Homo sapiens: one gene and its partner. The protein of the gene in region 1 interacts with the protein of each later gene in a pairwise test. Each region holds a gene or a part of one and is shown on either strand. Other genes may lie near its edges. The genes, in order: TSPAN12 and PMP22.

Region 1 (4,038 bases):
TTTTAATCTGAAAATAGAATTTTACTGCTAACAAAGTCTGAAAATAATCAGTAAAAATGAATGAATAGGAAAACTTCTGCTAAAATGGAGTAATTGATTATTCTGATCAATTCTCCCAGAAAACACAAGTATGTAAATTTCCTGGCCACATGAGGATTGACTTTACCGCCACTGAGCATAAAACTTAATCAGTGAACTAAAACTGACATCACTAATCATTAGCCAGCAGGGGGAGCTGGAGAGTAGCATGGTAGCATTTTCTTTGGAGAGGTTCTTTTTTTTCCCCTTCTATGTGTTGGTGGTCTATGTGGAGGCTCTTAAAATACGTATTCTGTCCAGGAACTCCAAACCCTCTGCTTCTTGCACATCCAGTGTTAGCTACATACTCTGCCTGTGTCTGTTTCAAAGGATCCCCAAGCAGTAGGAACTTGATTCAAAACAAAACAGTTCAAAATCCAATTAATTACAAAACCTGGTCTTTCCCACTTCCCTTTATTAAAATGTGATTAATGTTTAGATTTTTATATTGTTTTTTAGCTTTCTTCTGCTTCTCCCCATATTAGAGAAAAATTTTAAGGCCTTTTACATTTAGACAGAGAAGGAAAATTTCATTGGCATATTGTTGATTCTTTAAAGTTATTCCTAAGAAAACATTTATCCATAATAAATTAACCATATATGGCCTCACCTCTTGATAAAGGTCACTGAGATCTTCCTGGTGGGCCTGTTTGGAACATCCTGGGAATTCTCTAACACAGCAGGAATCTGGGGGCCAGTCCATCTCTGTCATTTCCAACCAGTCAGTGAAATATACTACTCCACAGCACTTAAACTGCAAAAAAAATCACTAGTCAGCCTCAGAAACCACAAAAATATTTTCTTAACTTATAGGAGATTAAACATCAGTTTTTTAAAATTTTTGTACCCAGAGCTATATCTGTCATCACCTAATGATATATGTACAGTCTATGTTGATGATAGAAATGTAGTAAAGGAACACCATGGCTAACGATTGCATAATGGAAGTATTCTGAGTAATAATGCCCATAACACATAAAAACAAATCAGGCATGACTGAGACTCACTCCCTAACTGTAAGCTCATCTACAAGTGACTATACATAGCAACAGATTGAACATACACACTAACAAACCCAAGTAGGTGACACTTTAATCATTAAACCTCTAACCACCAAAGGCCAGTTAATCAAATTTTTCTATTGCCCAACATATTCAAATATTATATTAAAAGTTTCTGTAATCTTTGTAAAAACATGTGTTGACCAAAGCCCACATCACAAAAAGTTAGCAGACATCGATTCCTTAGCTAGTAAAATATCCAAAAACTTTAAGAAATAAACATAGGTCTGGCCAACTGGTGTTTATTCAACTGAGTAAGATTCTTGAAATAAATGTTCATATTCTATTACCATAATCTCAGAAGAAATGGTGTGTGTGCCTTTAGCTTGAATAAAATTGGATTTAAGAAAAACTATACTGACATTTTTACTTTTTTATCTTATTTCTCCAAAGATTAGCAAAAACTGTCTCTGATCAAGGTTTGGAAACACTGCTTAAGGACCTCTATAGATTAGATTCAGAACAATTAACTATGATGAATAATTTTCTGTCCTTGAGTGGAGAAGGAGGTTGCTCTTTCCCCTCTAGCCAGAAACAAGGACTATGGGCAGTCACTGAGAACTTTGCCAAGAGTGACTGGCTATGCAAATTATGCAGTCCAACAGATCAATCTATGTCCAGGTTTGACATTGCATCATAAAATATCACAATCCCCCACCATTTCAAAATTTAACTAAAATTAACTTTGAAGAATTCCGAACTTCTCATGCAAAAGGAAACAATGAAAATACCACAAAGTATTTTGCGTTGTTACACTGGCCTAAATGTCTGATTTTTAAACAGAAAAAAAAATCATCTTAAGAGTATTATAAATGACGAATTACTGAAAGCTATGGGTAATACTGAAATTTTGAGAAACTTAAAAAATACTTTATATATATTTTTCCTTTTTAAACTTGCTCTCAAAGTCATGAGTATACTATAAACATCACAAATTTAGTCAATAATTTGATGTCACATATTTTACATAAGACATTAAATATCCTTAAATAATATATGTAGTATAAAGACTTCACTTCATAAAAATCATAAACAAGGAAAGGTTAACTTTCCAAGTCCATCTTTTTAAATTCTTGCACTCAAAGAAAATCCATTTGTCTCCTTTGCTAATGACATGAGTCCTTTCTGTGTTGATGACAGAACAGTTCTTGGAACTCTCTAGCTCCATCCAGCAAGGAACAGCCTATTTATATGGCTTTGTCAGGAAATAAGATATTCTACATAAATGACTTTCTCAAATATAAGTATATAATGTTCTTTCTCATTATAAGTATACGATGCTCAGTGCTGAACTTACTTTTATTTTAGAAAGCATTTGTATATAATTGTCCTTCTTCAACAGAAGATAATGAATTTATTCTGAAACTTTTTCTGAAAACTCCTTTAAGTAAGCCCAACATCATACCAACATATTACTGTGGTCTACATCTCCTTGTCATTTTCCTGTCTACTTTAATATCATATTGTGAGATAGTACTACTCTTGCTAATGTGTCAAGCTCTAGAAAATACCATCCATTTTACATATGAGTAAACTGAGGCCTTTGACAGTCAAGTAGCTTGCTAAAGTTACAGGCCAGAGTGTGGCACAGTCTATTCCAAAGCCTATGCTCCAACTACTATGTTAAAATAAATAAATAAACACATTTTTTAAAGTTAGTATTCTAAAAACGTATTAAACAAACGTCACTGGGGCTTAAGTGAGAGTCCGCTAAGTTGCGGTATGTGCATAGAATTGCACTGAATGAGGAGCAAAGGAGACTGGCACCTGATAAAGTTGCTTTCTGCAATACAGGTTATTCTAGAATTGGGTCCCCCACCCAAATGCATATGTTGAAATTCTACCTCCCAGTACCTTAGAATGTGACTGTATTTGGAGATAGAGTTTATAGAGATTGTTGAGTTAAAATAAGGTCATTAGGGTGGGCCCTAATCCAGTATGACTGATGTACTTATTAGGAGAGGGTATTTAAATATATATATATATTTAATATATATATGGAAGACATAGTGAAGACACAGGGAGAAGATGGCCATCCGCAAGCAGTCATTGCAAACTAATATAAGGGATATAAGGGATTTTAAAAACCTCAGGTTCTCAGAAGTCTTCACCATCTCCATTTACATAAAATAGTCTTATGATAATGGAGGAGGAAACTTACCATGTAACAAATCTAAAAATAAGTGTGCTATCATTTGCAGTACTTGTACATTGTCCATCTAGGTGCAGCTTCCATCAGAAAAAAACTCACTTTGTTTTTTAACCTGGATTATCACTGTCTACATCACAAATTCCAGAAAATAACGAGCTCTGGGCAGCATCTACTCAGGACAGTAGCTGACATAACTTACTATAAATTTCCTAATGCTTATTTTCTCTTTGTGTTGTTTTTAGCACAAATATACAATAAATAAACAAAGTTAGGAAGCACTTAAATAAACAGGAAATCTGTGTTACAATGATAATTTTTACCATCTCAACAGTTGTACACAGCCAGATTTGGAGATTGTCCTGGACTTGAACCTCTGCCCATATCCAGGACAAAGTAAGTGAGCAGAGATCTTGCTATCTATCACGTAAGACACTAATTCTCAAATGCTTTGCGGCCTAGCACTAAGATAAATTAAAGGAAACTGAAATACTTATCCATCTGGGAATGTCACTTCAATCACAAGGAAACTGCTTGGAAGAAGAGCTTGGTTTGAAGCAAGATCAATGGTTAACTCCAAGTCACCAAATTTTAAACATCTGAATACAGTCCCCACTTGAGAAGATGGTTGGGTGCAGTGCTACATGGCGGTTAGGTAAGAAATGCTAAACGCACCTATACTTTGTAATGTTATTGTTAATAACCATAGGCTAAATGAAATCGCATCATTTAATCTTCTTAACAACCTGA
Region 2 (2,524 bases), on another chromosome or scaffold:
TTCTCTCCTTCAGGATGGCATTAGGAGCTTAGTTGGTGCCAACCAATGTTTTATCTGCAAGTGTGGCCTCAAGTCACCATCATTCAGACCTTTCACCATATCATACCTCAGGGTGAGGGATCTGAGATGCTTCTGCCAACATTCCCAGTATATCAGGGCAGCTCATGACATGCCTCCATGTTTTCCATGTGGGTCATCAAACAACAGAGCACCAGAGAGGGTTGAACTAAATGAATACTCAAGTGCCTTCCAGTCCATTTACAGCCTCCATTTCAGCTGCAATTCCCAACTGTCTCCAATTAGCAAACCTTTGCACAGACATCATGAAGGCATCATGTGCTCCCTGTAGCTTGTAAAACAGCTATGATTTTGGTGCCTTAGCACCATCTTGTAACCCAAATCTCCAGCTCAACTTTGCTTTCCACTGAAGCTCTTCATCCTGCTCCAACAGGCACCTTGTACCCACACCCAAGTTCCCACAAAAACTCAAGAGAGACCAGTGAGTTACTCTGATGTTTATTTTAATGCATCTTAGTCCACACAGTTGGTATAAAATCAGAAAATGCAAAGCAAAAACAAAAGGTCTGGAGTCTTAGCATCAGAAGGGCACCATATATACATCTACAGTTGGTGGCCAATACAAGTCATTGCCAGACAGTCCTTGGAGGCACAGAACAGCCTAGACCCAGCCAAGCTCTAGGAACTCACGGTCCCAAGGAGTCTAGACGCTTGTTCTGATGCTCCGACCGTAAGAAAAATGTGGGAGTGATGAAGGCTTTATGATTTACTCATTATAGTAATAATAGCAGCCTAGCTAGGTACAAAAGCAGTTATAAACCATTTATATTACACAGAATTATTCAGGTCTCCATTCTATCTTATGTTGTAAAATTGTTAATTGGATTTCCAGTGAGTTGTTTAGATGATTAGTGATAATAAGGAATGGTAAATCCATAGCACCATTTCAAAGACTTGTTGTCACTGATTTCTCATTTAGATGTGTGACGAAGATACTCCACCTGTAAGGGCAAGTATGCCAATGCCACAAGCCGTGTTTTTGCAAGGGCTCCAGTTTGGGCATTTTGTCCGTGTGCGCGTAAAGCTTCACACAGAGGTTCGGGCAGCGGCTGTTTCTGTTGGATGCACTGGGTCACCCACCAGAAAAGGGCTTTTGGACATTTGGGGTTTCTACCCACACTTTGGTTTTCTAAATGAGGTGGACTGGGAGGGAGGTATCTTCTTTCAGATGAAAGGGAAGGGGCGAGATGGAGTTATCTTATTTCTGGGTAAAACAAAACAAACAAACAAAAAACAAAACAAAAATACTGAGCTGGATTATACTGTTAGGATGTAAAGTTCCTTAGCTACTTCTTTAAGGCTCAACACGAGGCTGATGGTCAACATAAAAAGCAAACAATACTATGTACATATATGTAAAAAGTGTTATAAATAGGTTTTATAAACCGGAGATATTATATACATCTTCAATCAACAGCAACCCCCACCTCCACTGCTTTCTGTTTGGTTTGGTTTGAGTTTGGGATTTTGGGCTAGCTCTTTTTTCTTTGTCTGCTTTCTGTTTTCCCTTCCTCCCTTCCCTATGTACGCTCAGAGCCTCAGACAGACCGTCTGGGCGCCTCATTCGCGTTTCCGCAAGATCACATAGATGACACCGCTGAGAAGGGCCAGGGGGAAGGCCACCCAGGCCAGGATGTAGGCGAAACCGTAGGAGTAATCCGAGTTGAGATGCCACTCCGGGTGCCTCACCGTGTAGATGGCCGCAGCACTCATCACGCACAGACCTGGGGAAGGAGAGGGACAAGCTGGGTGACGGAGAGTCCATGGCAGAGCGGCCCCCTCTCCGCCACCCCGGATGCTGACAATTGCTGGGTAGGAAGAACATTTCTACCTCTGGAAGGAAATCTGCTTCCAGGTCCAGAATTGAAAGGAGGTAGCACAAAAATATGGGAACAAGGAAAACAACTTGCTCTCTATTTCCAATCTTGGCCACCTAGGCCTTAATACCTGAGGGTTTTCTTTACATTTTCTGCCCTATTTCTCTTTCTTTCACTGTCACCAATTCCCAGGCCACACTACATGGCCAGCAGGCATTCAGGCTGCAAGAAAAACCTACCTGTCTCTTTCCAAGGGTGGTTGGGTATGGAAACCCCTGGAAATCTATATGCCACTCTACAAGTGAGTGGTGGCATTACCTAAAGCCAATGGAAGTGAAGTGACATTTTACCATTATTGGAGTCACGCCATGGTAAAAGGATTAAGCTCCATGCAGACCACAGGGGCCTATGGTCCCCCTAACAGAGTTGCCACATACCAGGTGAAGCAAGCAATGCCTATGGGCACTGCCAAACAGACAAAGAAATGTGTGGAGAGGGAAAAAGAAAGTGAGGAATAAGGATGCAGCCGACAGTATGACTGGGAAGCCACGCTGCAGAGGGGGAAGATGATCAAAGGCAAGCTCCATTTCCCTGGGTGCCCCAAGGTTGCATTTGAAGCCCAAAGAAGG

The links.
Region 2: the proteins of TSPAN12 (region 1) and PMP22 interact in binary tests that used the Homo sapiens proteins (3 or more experiments, as listed by UniProt).

The regions. Positions count from the first base shown.
Region 1 is NC_000007.14:120,805,861-120,809,898, forward strand, and holds part of TSPAN12 (tetraspanin-12), read right to left. Parts: intron 833-4,038; coding exon 689-832; intron 1-688. UniProt on the Homo sapiens protein: Regulator of cell surface receptor signal transduction. Plays a central role in retinal vascularization by regulating norrin (NDP) signal transduction.
Region 2 is NC_000017.11:15,229,279-15,231,802, forward strand, and holds the end of PMP22 (peripheral myelin protein 22), read right to left. Parts: exon of another isoform or gene 1,803-2,524; coding exon 1,639-1,802; 3' UTR 501-1,638; downstream 1-500. UniProt on the Homo sapiens protein: Might be involved in growth regulation, and in myelinization in the peripheral nervous system.